3 separate regions of the Homo sapiens genome follow, and all the other regions are linked to region 1. Evidence: fine-mapped expression QTL. A gene starts in region 1. Each other region holds a variant in brackets. All regions are shown on one strand. Distances are from middle to middle.

What was found.
Region 2: its variant is fine-mapped to the expression of LINC02562 in esophagus mucosa (GTEx, PIP 0.93).
Region 3: its variant is fine-mapped to the expression of LINC02562 in prostate (GTEx, PIP above 0.99).

The regions. Positions count from the first base shown.
Region 1 is chr4:75,082,701-75,086,942 of GRCh38, forward strand. It overlaps LINC02562 (long intergenic non-protein coding RNA 2562), which reads right to left and starts at 2,008. Exons shown (of 2, transcript NR_149051.1): 1 at 1,889-2,008.
Region 2 is chr4:75,075,100-75,079,341 of GRCh38, forward strand. No RefSeq gene overlaps it. Among named protein-coding and RNA genes, the nearest start is that of LINC02562, 7.5 kb to the right of the region's middle. The variant A/T (reference allele first, on the strand shown) is at 2,567.
Region 3 is chr4:75,837,614-75,841,855 of GRCh38, forward strand. LOC105377284 (a long non-coding RNA gene) reads left to right here. Exons shown (of 5, transcript XR_938891.2): 5 at 737-1,087. Among named protein-coding and RNA genes, the nearest start is that of PPEF2, 63 kb to the right of the region's middle. The variant T/C (reference allele first, on the strand shown) is at 1,682.

The DNA.
Region 1 (4,242 bases):
GATGCCGGGAGAATTAGACAGCTTTATCTCCTAATCCCTCATCCTCCACCTGCACTCCATTCTATACTACTACTGATGATAGTTTGAGTAATCATGATAACACCACATACCATGGATTACCAGTGTCCCAGACAAAAAAAAAACAAGATTATTTATCTTTGCATCAAATAAGTGAGACACTCGATCCCAAAATCCCATTTTAATAGCTTATTTCTGAGACCCCTCTTGGTACCAGTTATGTAATCATTAGGGTGCTTGCAGGACATTGATGACACATTCAGACACGGTAATGGACAAAAGTTTAGCTAAATGATTATTGACAAAAATGTGGTGGAAACTAACAATAATGGCAAAAAAACCCAGGGCTAGCAACAAGAGGTCAGATACCATATCTAGGTCTAAAGGGGCATTTATCAGAATGCAGTAAAACCTGGAGCTGTCAGGTGGTCCCCTGACAGGAGCCGTGGCTTTGGGTCGGGGAGCACAGCCACTGCCAATCTGAAGCCAGACATGTAGAAAGACAGGGGAACAAATACTTCACCCCTCTCTTCTCTGTCACCCTCTGAACCTCTGGAAGCCAGAAAACAAGAGAGCCTGGTTGATCTGCTTGTTACAGATCAGCTTCCTGGGGGTTCAGAGAAGAGTAGAGAGGGAAAGAGAGTGAATCTTAAGGAATAAAGAGCAAATAAGAGAATATCCAGCATACTCACTAGGAAGTAAATATGTCATCCCAAATAATTAAGAGGAGGGCATTGTCTTCTTAGTTTGCTGAAGTTTCCCAGTAACCAGAGGATATCAGTCGAGGATGGGGCTAGATCCTTGTCTGTTACGCTGATGGGAAGGGTCTATTTATAGCTGTATCAATGGCTCCAAAATTTAAAGGAGAAAGCCACGTAACTCACATACCCTAGATTTGCTCATATTATTGTTAATCTTCAAGTTACCTTAGAATCTGGAGCCTCCATCCAATTGACTTCAATCTTTGGATTTTAAGACATGTAAATGTGTTTCCATATAACTATAAAGCACTCTGAATTTGATGGATTTCTATCTTTTATTTTCATTTCATAGGACTAAAAAACTCTTACAAATATCAAAGTGACATCTGATTGAATTCTTGATATCTCTCAAGTCTTTGGTTTTGCAATCTAAAGTAATTCTACATCTAACGTTGCTCTATTGTTCATCCTCAATAGCAGATGACCTTGCACCTTTCCATTATATTTCTACACTCTTGGTGCTATTGAAAGCGAGCTACTTTATATTCTCTGTTTTATAGCTTCTGCTTTCTCATATCTTCTGCTTACTAATGGTTTTCTCTGTCTCGTGGGAATTTTGCATGCATTTTCTCGTCATATCCTTTTGCTACTAACCAGCTATATCTTTGTTTACAATCCCAAGACAAGTTATAAAAGAGACTTCTTTGTCCAGTCATTCCCATTTGGACAGAGCTATCATGCAAGGCCACCTCATAGCCTCCTAGCTGGTGACTTGTGAAATTGGTTCCCTGAAGATTGTTTCTCTTGGGATAGGTGCACACCTCTGGCTCATTCAGTGGCAGCCAGAGTAGATAAGTGGAGTCACATGACAGAGCATATGGAAATCTGCACAAGAAGCTAAATAGGACTCTTCGTTCAGAAGGTGTCAGTGGTAATGACGGATACCTGTATTGGTCTTTCCATACGAGAGTTGAATAAAACAGACAAAAAAAAATTTTAATTTTAGAACTATAAGAAAAAATAGGTGGATATTTATGTAATTTCATTGTAGGAAAAGTTTTTAAAGCATAAATACAAAGGGAAAAATCCTAAGGAAATTTATTAATATATACATTAAAAATGAATTAACTTTATATGTTAAAATATTATAAGGTTAAAAAGAAACTTACTAGGTGTAGTAGCATGTGCATATAGTCCTAGCTATTTGGGAGGCTGAGGCAAGAAGATTTCTTGAGCCAAGGAGTTCCAGTCCATGCAAGGCAACATAGTGAGATCCTGTCTCAACTGAAAAAATATATATATATATAATAGCAACTACTTGGATAAATGTATTTGCAACATATTGACAGGTATTTAAATTATTGCTATGTTAAGAAGAACTTGATTTTAAAAACAAGATGAACACCCCGATAAAATAATTGGCACAGATGTTGAATGGAGAATCTGCAAAAAGACGAAGAAGAAGGAAGGAAGGAAAGAAGGAAGGAAGGAAGGAAGGAAGGAAGGGAGGAAGGAAGGAAGGAAGGAAGGAAGGATCAACTTTGCCAATAATCAGAGAGATAAAAACCAATTTAACAATGTTTTGGCAGACATAGCTTATGCTTCTCAGGTTAGGGGTATTACTACGGTAGAAAATGCATTCTCCAGAGTTTTTGGAGGGTCATACAAGAATACATATGAAAGCCTTAAAACTATGCCCACAAAAATACTTTAACTTCTAGGAATTAATCCTAAATCTTAAGTAAACAATTAAGAATAGAGATGCACCATTTACATACATGGCTTTTCATAATAGTATTATGTATTATGGGTATATACCCAGTAATGGGATGGCTGGGTCAAATGGTATTTCTAGTTCTAGATCCTTGAGGAATTGCCACACTGTCTTCCACAATGGTTGAACTACTTTACAGTCCCACCAACAGTGTAAAAGTGTTCCTGTTTCTCCACATCCTCTCCAGCACCTGTTGTTTCCTGACTTTTTAATAATCGCCATTCTAACTGGTGTGAGATGGTATCTCATTGTGGTTTTGATTTGCATTTCTCTGATGGCCAGTGATGATGAGCATTTTTTCATGTGTCTGTTGGCTGCATAAATGTCTTCTTTTGAGAAGTGTCTGTTTATATCCTTCGCCTACTTTGTGATGGGATTTTTTTTTCTTACAAATTTGTTTGAGTTCTTTGTAGATTCAGGATATTAGCCCTTTGTCAGATGAGTAGATTGCAAAAATTTTCTCCCATTCTGTAGGTTGCCTGTTCATTCTGATGGTAGTTTCTTTTGCTGTACAGAAGCTCTTTAGTTTAATTAGATCCTATTTGTCAATTTTGGCTTTTGTTACCATTGCTTTTGGTGTTTTAGACATGAAGTCCTTGCCCATGCCTACATCCTGAATGGTATTGCCTAGGTTTTCTTCTAGGATTTTTATGGTTTTAGGTCTAACATTTAAGTCTTTAATCCATCTTGAATTAATTTTTGTCTAAGGTGTAAGGAAGGGATCCAGTTTCAGCTTTCTACATATGACTAGCCAGTTTTCCCAGCACCATTTATTAAATAGGGAATCGTTTCCCCATTTCTTGTTTTTGTCAGGTTTGTCAAAGATCAGATGGTTGTAGATGTGTGATATTATTTCTGAGGGCTCTGTTCTGTTCCATTGGTCTGTATCTCTGTTTTGGTACCAGCACCATGCTGTTTTGGTTACTGTAGACTTGTAGTATAGTTTGAAGTCAGGTAGTATGATGCCTCCAGTTTTGTTCTTTTGGCTTAAGATTGTCTTGGTGATGTGGGCCCTTTTTGGTTCCATATGAACTTCAAAGTAGTTTTTTCCAATTCTGTGAAGAAAGTCATTGGTAGCTTGATGGGGATGGCATTGAATCTATAAATTACCTTGGGCAGTATGGCCATCTTCATGATATTGATTCTTCCTATCCATGAGCATGGAATGTTCTTCCATTTGTTTGTGTCCTCTTTTATTTCGTTGAGCAGTGGTTCGTAGCTCCCCTTGAAGAGGTCCTTCACATCCTTGTAAGTTGGATCCCTAGGTATTTTATTCTCCTTGAAGCAATTGTGAATGGGAGTTCACTCATGATTTGGCTCTCTGTTTGTCTGTTATTGGTGTGTAAGAATGCTTATATTATGAAGAAAATAAGCAAACAAGAACATTTTTAAAGGAAACAAGGTTATGGTATACAATAGGGGATTAGTTAAATTGTGGATAGTGGAATACCATGCAGCCACTACAATTTATGTAATAAATAAAATTAATGGCATGAAAACATGTTCACAAAATATTGGTGAAAAAAGTAATTATAAAAAATAATATGAAAAATATGATCATCATTTTTATTAAAATGTATATGTTTATATGACATATGAACATAGTCATAAACAACTGCTATTGAGAGGTGACAGTAGAGTAACCTTAGACATAGAATGACCTTAGATTGTAAATCCAAAGCCACAGGAAATATCGAGAATTTAATCAGATATCACTTTAGTATCTTTAAGAATTGTCTGTCCCTACCA
Region 2 (4,242 bases), 7.6 kb before region 1:
TTGTAGATTCTGGATATTAGCCCTTTGTCAGATGGGTAGATTGCAAAAATTTTCTCCCATTCTGTAGGTTGCCTGTTCACTCTGATGGTAGTTTGTTTGTTTGTTTGTTTGTTTTTGCCGTGCAGAAGTTGTTTAGTTTAATTAGATCCCATTTGTCAATTTTGGTTTTTGTTGCCATTGCTTTTGGTGTTTTAGTCATGAAGTCCTTGCCCATGCCTATGTCCTGAATGGTATTGCCTAGGTTTTCTTCTAGAGTTGTTATGGTTTTAGGTCTAACACGTAAGTCTTTAATCCATCTTGAATTAATTTTTGTCTAAGGTGCAAGGAAGGGATCCAATTTCAGCTTTCTACATATGGCTAGCCAGTTTTCCCAGCACCATTTATTAACTAGGAAATCCTTTCCTCATTGTTTATTTTTGTCAGGTTCATCAAAGATCAGATGGTTGTAGATGTGTGGCATTATTTCTGAGACCTATGTTCTGTCCCATTGGTCTATATATCTGTTTTGGTACCAGTACCATGTTGTTTTGGTTACTGTAGCATTATAGTATAGTTTGAAGTCAGGTAGCATTATGCCTCCAGTTTTGTTCTTTTTCCTTATGATTGTCTTGGTAATGTGGGTTCTTTTTTGGTTCCATATGAAATTTAAAGTAGTTTTTTCCAAATCTGTGAAGAAAGTCATTGGTAGCTTGATGGGGATGGCATTGAATCTATAAATTACCTTGGGCAGTATGGCCATTTTCACGATACTGATTCTTCCTATCCATGAGCATGGAATATTCTTCCATTTGTTTGTGTCCTTTTATTTCCTTGAGCAGTGGTTTGCAGATCTCCTTGAAGAGGTCCTTGACATCCCTTGTAAGTTGGATTCCTAGGTATTTTATTCTCTTTGTAGCAATTGTGAATAGGAGTTCACTCATGATTTGGCTCTCTGTTTGTCTGTTATTGGTGTATAGCAATGCTTGTGATTTTTGCACATGGATTTTGTATCCTGAGACTTTGCTGAAGTTGCTTATCAGCTTAAGGAGATTCGGGGCTGAGACAATGGGGTTTTCTAAATAAACAATCATGTCATCTGCAAACAGGGACAATTTGACTTCCTCATTTCCTAATTGAATATCCTTTATTTCTTTCTCTTGCCTGATTGCCCTGGCCAGAACTTCCAACACTATGCTGAATAGGAGTGGTGAGAGAAGGCATCTTTGTCTTGTGCCAGTTTTCAAAGGGAATGCTTCCAGATTTTGCCCAATCAGTATGAAATTGGCTGTGGGTTTGTCATGAATAGCTCTTATTATTTTGAGATATATTGTATGAATACCTAACTTATTGAGAGTTTTTAGCATGAAGGGCTGTTGAATTTTGTCAAAGGCCTTTTCTGCACCTATTGAGATAATCATGTGGTTTTTGTCTTTGGTCCTGTTTATGGATTACCTTTATTGATTTGTGTATGTCGAACCAGCCTTGCATCCTAGGGATGAACCTGATTTGATCATGGTGGATAAGCTTTTTGATGTGCTGCTGGATTCGGTTTGGTAGTATTTTACTGAGGAATCTCACATCAATGTTCATCAGGGATATTGGTCTAAAGTTCTCTTTTTTTATTGTGTCTCTACCAGCCTTTGGTATCAGGATGATGTTGGCCTCATAAAATGAGTTAGAAGGGTTTCCCTCTTTTGCTATTGATTGGAATAGTTTCAGAAGGAATCGTACCAGCTCCTCTTTGTACCTCTGGTAGAATTCGGCTGTGAATCTGTCTGGTCCTGGACTTTTTTCGGTGGCAGGCTATTAATTATTGCCTCAATTTCAGAGCCTGTTATTGGTCTATTCAGAGATTCACCCTCTTCCTGGTTTAGTCTTGGGAGGGTGTATGTGTCCAGGAATTTATCCATTTCTTCTAGATTTTCTAGTTTATTTGAGTAGAGGTGTTTATAGTACTCTCTCATGGTAGATTGTATTTCTGTGGGATCGGTGGTGATATCCCCTTTATCATTTATTATTGCGTTTATTTGATTCTTCTCTCTTTTCTTCTTTATTAGTCTTGCTAGCAGTCTATCAATTGTGTTGATCTTTTCAAAAAACCAGCTCCTGGATTCATTGATTTTTTGAAGGGTTTTTGGTGTCTCTATCTCTTTCAGTTCTGCTCTGATCTTAGTTATTTCTTGCCTTCTGTTAGCTTTTGAATTTGTTTGCTCTTTCTTCCAGTTATTTTAATTGTGATGTAAGGGTGTCAATTTTAGATCTTTCCTGCTTTCTCTTGTAGGCATTTAGTGCTATAAAACTCCCTCTACACACTGCTTTAAATGTGTCCAGAGATTCTGGTACTTTGTGTCTTTGTTGTCATTGGTTTCAAAGAATATCTTTACTTCTGCCTTCATTTTGTTATTTACCCAGTAGTCATTCAGGAGCAGGTTGTTCAGTTTCCATGTAGTTGTGTGGTTTTGAGTGGGTTTCTTAATCCTGAGTTCTAATTTGATTGCACTGTGGTCTGAGAGACAGTTTGTTGTTCTTTCTGTTCTTTTACACTTGCTGAGGAGTGCTTTACTTCCAACTATGTGGTCAATTTTAG[A/T]ATAAGTGTGATGTGGTGTTGAGAAGAATGTATATTCTGTTGATTTGGGGTGGAGAGTTCTGTAGATGTCTATTAGGTCTGCTTGGTGCAGAGCTGAGTTCAATTCCTGGATATCCTTGTTAACCTTCTGTCTCTTTGATCTGTCTAATATTGACAGTGGAATATTAAAGTCTCTCATTATTATTATGTGTGTGTCTAAGAGCCTTTGTAGGTCTCTAAGGACTTGCTTTACTAATCTGGGTGCTCCTGTGTTGAGTGCATAGATATTTAGGATAGTTAGCTCTTCTTGTTGAACTGATCCCTTTATCATTATGTAATGTCCTTCTTTGTCTCTTTTGATATTTGTTGGTTTAAAGTCTGTTTTATCAGAGACTAGGATTGCAACCCCTGCTTTTCTTTGCTTTCCATTTGCTTGGTAGATCTTCCTCCATCCCTTTATTTTGAGCCTATGTGCGTCTTTGCACATGAGATGGGTCTCCTGAATGCATCGCACTGATGAGTCTTGACTTTTCATCCAATTTGTCAGTCTGTGTCTTTTAACTGGGGCATGTAGTCAATTTACATGTAAAGTTAATATTATTATGTGTGAATTTGAACCTGTCATTATGATGTTCACTTGTTATTTTGCCCATTAATTGATGCAGTTTCTTCATAGCATCAATAGTCTTTACAATTTGGCATGTTTTTGCATTGACTGGGACCTATTGTTTCTTTCCATGTTTAGTGCTTCCTTCAGAAGCTCTTGTAAGGCAGGCCTGGTGGTGACAAAATCTCTCAGCATTTGCTTGTCTGCAAAGGATTTTACTTTTCCTTTACTTATGATGCTTAGTTTGGCTGGATATGAGATTCTGGGTTGAAAATTCTTTTCTTTAAGAATGTTGAATATTGGCCTCCACTCTCTTATGGTTTGTAGGATTTCTGCCAAGAGATCTGCTGTTAGTCTGATGGGCTTCCCTTTGTGGGTAACTCGACCTTTCTCTCTGGCTGCCCTTAACACTTTTTCCTTCATTTCAACCTTAGTGAATCTGACAAGTATGTGTCTTGGGGTTGATCTTCTCAAGGAGTATCTTTGTGGTGTTCTCTGTATTTCCTGAATTTGAATGTTGGCCTGCCTTGCTATGTTGGGGAAGTTCTCCTGGATAATATTTTGAAGAGTGTTTTCCAACTTGGTTCCATTCTCTCCATCACTTTCAGGTACACCAATCAAACTAGATTTGGCCTTTTCATATAGTCCCATGTTTCTTGGAGGCTTTGTTTGTTTCTTTTTACTCCTTTTTCTCTAACCTTGTCTCCTCACTTTATTTCATTAATTTGATCCTCCATCATTGATACCCTTTCTTCCACTTAATCAAATCAGCTATTGAAGCTTGTGCATGCATCACAAAGTTCTCCTGCCATGGTTTGCAGCTCCATCAGGTCATTTAATGTCTTCTCTACACTGTTTATTCTAGTTAGCCATAAGTGTAATCATTTTTCAAGGTTTTTAGCTTCCTTGCCACGGGTTCAAACATCCTCCTTTAGCTCGAAGAAGTTTGTTATTACTGACCTGCTGATGCCTACTTCTGTCAACTTGTCAAAGTCATTCTCTATCCAGCTTTGTTCCGCTGCTGGTGAGGACCTGCGATCCTTTGGAGGAGAAGAGGTGCTCTGATTTTTAGAATTTTCAGGTTTTCTGC
Region 3 (4,242 bases), 750 kb after region 1:
AAGGCACAGACCTGGCCCCTGGGCATGCATTCTTAATCTTGACAAAATAAATTTTCTAAAATTTCTTTTTTTTTTTTTTCCCCAGGTGGGGTCTTACTGTGTCACCCAGGCTGGAGTGCAGTGGTGCAATCTCAGCTTACTGCACCCTCCACCTCCTGGGTTCAAGTGATTCTCCTGCCTCAGCCTCCTGAGTAGCTGGGATTGCAGGCACCCGCCACCACACCTGGATAATTTTGTAGAGACGGGGTTTCACCATGTTGGCCAGGCTAGTCTTAAACCCCTGACCTCAAGTGATCTGCCTGCCTTGGCCTTCCACAGTGCTGAGATTACAGGCATGGGCCACAGCATCCAGCCAAATTTTCTAAGTTGATTGAGGCCTGTCTCAGATACTTTTTGGTTCACAGATTGGCAACCATGAAGGAAGTCAGGTGGAGATGCCCTTGACCTTTGGCAAATCTCCTATCTGGCTGGAGCTATCTTTATTGCTCAAACTAATAGGTCAATTTGCTTAGGCCTGGGAGCTGCCCCCTCCAGAGAATCCCTGATCTCCCAAAATTTGGTTGAAATCTAAGGTTTATTTTGCTGTACAACTCCTTTTCTGGAGTTTTACTCACTTTCAACAAGGAAAGTGAGCTTTTCCTGCTTCCATAATGATGGAGAGCAGGCAACTCCTTTCTGGAGTTTCAACTTGCTTTGAACAGGTAAGGCGAGTTTGAGGTTTTTTTTCTGCTTCTAGGATGGCAGAGAGCAGTCTTCATCCTGAGCCCCATTCCTAGGTAAGTAGCTGAATTGGGGTTTTGTTTTGGAAATTCTCCTTAATGGCTAAAGTTAAGATTAACAACCAGCTGGTCTTAATTTCTTCTTACCATTAGAGCACTCAGTAATCTAATATAAATTATAAATCTAATATATTAGATTTATTTTGGGTTTGACCAACTCTATCTGACTTGATCAAATCCAAAGGAAAGTTCCAAATTATGGGGAATAAGGCCTCTGAATTGGCTACATTCCTGCAGCTGAAAATAAGGAAAGAAAAAAGGGAAAAAGTAAAAGCAGCCAGGCCGGGCATGGTGGCTCAAACCTGTAATCCCAGCACTTTGGGAGGCCAAGGCAGGCAGCCTAGGAATTCGAGACCAGCCTGGGCAACACAGTGAGACCCCATCTCTACAAAAAATACAAAAATTAGTTGGAATGGTGGCATGCGCCTATAATCCCAGCTACTCAGGAGGCTGAGGTGGGAGGATTGCTTGAGCAGGAGGAGGGTGTGGGGGAGGGTGGGGAGGTGAATGCTGCAGTGAGCCAAGATGGAACCACTGCATTCCTGCCTGTCGACAAAACAGCAACAACAACAACAACAACAAGAAAATGACAAGAAAAATAAATAAAGCATGTCAAACAAATATGTCTCTTATTGGGGCGGGGGAAGGAGAAGTATAAATGTGACAAAGTGGCCAGGAATTCTCAAAGTCAAGTTTTAATCCATAATCATTTTAAGCGATTTTGATAAAAGCATTAACATTTTGCCAAGTTCTGTTTTCTCTCTACTTCATGGAAGAGCTAATTCTAAATTTATCTCCCAGGTAAAGATTAGTTTAGGAAATTTCCTTGTATAGTTGAAATTGTTTTTATTTCAAAATTCAAAGCACCCAGTTGGTATTTGGTGAGCATTTCCTGTGTGAGG[T/C]ACACCAAACCCCTTTGCCCTCCAGGTCCTTCCCGGGACAAGTCAGCAGTGCACAGGTTCCTAAGGTGGCCCTTGGCCCTGACACCAAGGAGTAAATTTGATCGGGTCTGCCTGCCTTTCTTGCTTTTGGTCCCTTGCTTTTTGTTATCTGTTTTCCTTTTTCCATGAAGCTGAAAGCCAAGATAGCTGAAGGCCTTGCCACTGAATGCTGAAACTTAACCTTCACTACTTTGTAGACAGTGTTCGCAGGTCACCATGGTAATGGGAGCAAAAAGATGGTTGTTTCTCAGGAATTTGGGCCAGCTCCTGTCTAGTTCAAACTGGTGGAAACCACCAATGCTTCAACTGGGCCTGCACTAGTGCTCAAGAGGTGGCCTTTTGATGTGAGAAGGCCAAAAACTCCACCCTCAGATCATGCTAACACCACCATTTTCTGTACGTATGTTCTATAAAATGCGATGAGCCCTGACTATACTTGTGCAGAACAAACCTGTTAACGTCTTTTTTTCCCCCAGTGCCAATCACCTTTCCCCATGCCTTAGACCATCCCACTTCCCTAACGCATAAATATCCCTAAACTTTATCTTCGGTCAGGTGGATTTGAGAGCTGTTCTCCTGTCTTAGCGCTGGGGCTTTGTGAATAAATCTTCCCTCTTTTGCAAAACCTGTGTTACAGTGATTGATTTACTGCACGTGGGCAGAATGGACCTGGACCTGGCCAATACTAGCCCTTGGTTCTGTACTCTTACATAAGGGCAAATTCTCATTCTCAGGGTGACCATAATTCCAGTGGTTAAAACTGCTGCTTAGCTTTGACACAAGAGTTTTCATTTTGCTGGGCCGGGAGCGGTGGCTCATGCCTGTAATCCCAGCACTTTGGGAGGCCGAGGCAGGCGGATCACCTGAGGTCAGGAGTCTGAGATCAGTCTGGCCAACATGGTGAAACCCCATCCCTACTAAAAATACAAAAATTAGCTGGGCGTGGTGGTAGGCACCTGTAATCCCAGCTATTTGGGAGGCTGATGCAGGAGAATCGCTTGAATCCAGGAGGCGGAGGTTGCAAGTGAGCTGAGATTGCGCCATTGCACTCCAACCTGGGGGACAAGAGTGAGATGTCGTCTCAAAAAAAAAAAAAGGAGTTTTCATTTTGTAATAAAAACCGTGGCGTCTGGTGGCTGGGCGCAGTGGTTCACGCCTGTAATCCCCGCACTTTGAGAGGCCAAGGCGGGTGGATCACCTGAGGTCAGGAGTTCAAGACAAGCCTGGCCAAGATGGTGAAACCCCATCTCTACTAAAAACACAAAACTTAGCCTGGCGTGGTGGCGTGCACCTGCAGTCCCAGCTACTCGGGAGGCTGAGGCAGAGAATTGCTTGAACCCAGGGGGTGGAGGTTGCAGTGAGCTGAGATCACGCCACTGCACTCCAGCCTAAGCAACAGAGTGAGATTCCATCTCAAAACAAACAAACAAACAAAAACAAAACCATGGCATCTTATGATGTTTTGTGATGATTATAGCTGTGGCTTCTTTGTCTCCAACTATAATTTTTGCCTTGATTAAGTGGGGGGAAAATTTTCTAAGTTAGAGATTTACAATGTGACTGTATATTAGATTTACTTTTTTGGTTATTTTGTTTGTTTGTTTGTTTTATTTTTTTGAGATAGAGTCTTGCTCTGTTGCCCAGGCTAGAAAATGGTGTGACCTCGGCTCACTGCAACCTCTGCCTCCCGGGTTCAAGAGATTCTCCTGCCTCAGCCTCCCAAGTAGCTGGGATTACAGGCACCTGCCACTATGCCTGGCTAATTTTTGTATTTTTTAGTAGAGATGGGGTTTCACCATATTTGCCAGGCTGGTCTCAAACTCTTGACCTCAAGTGATCTGCCCATCTCGGCCTCCCAAAATGCTAGGATAATAGGCTTGAGCCACCATGCCTGGCCTTATTAGACTTACTTCTAAAAATAATTGTTGATGCCTGGGTCCCACCCTCAGACATTTTGATTCACTTGATCTGGGATGGGACCAAGGCATCAATATTTTTTTAAAAAACACTCACCTCCCTAGACCATTCTAGTGTGGAGAAATACTGTTCTAAGGGACTTGAACCCTGGAGTCCATATCCTTTCATCTTTGAGTTTTGAGACCCCTGAGAGTTTCTGCTACTGGTTTCTAGGGTACCTTACTATTTGCGGGGCCAGCAGCAGGCACTTTGGTCTCTGCAATATGGTTCGCTGTAAGAATGGGAAAGTTGACAGGACATCTTGCTCTTTTGAGTACAGTTAAGGATGGTCCAGTGATCTTATACTTACTCCTAAAAGCTCAGGAAACGAACACATTACTGCAGGGCTACTGCAGACTCCTCTGAGGAAAGATGAAGAATGACAGCCCAAAGTCTAAACTTTCATCAACATCCGGTACAGAAAACCGCTGTTAGCAAATAAACTCATTAGCGTCCTATTTGAGCTCTCTTGGGGGGAATAATCTCTCACTAGCCTGAGAAACACTTTGAGAACTCTTGTTTTACATGTGATGTTGGCTGTGCAGCTCACACAGCATGGTTGAGAG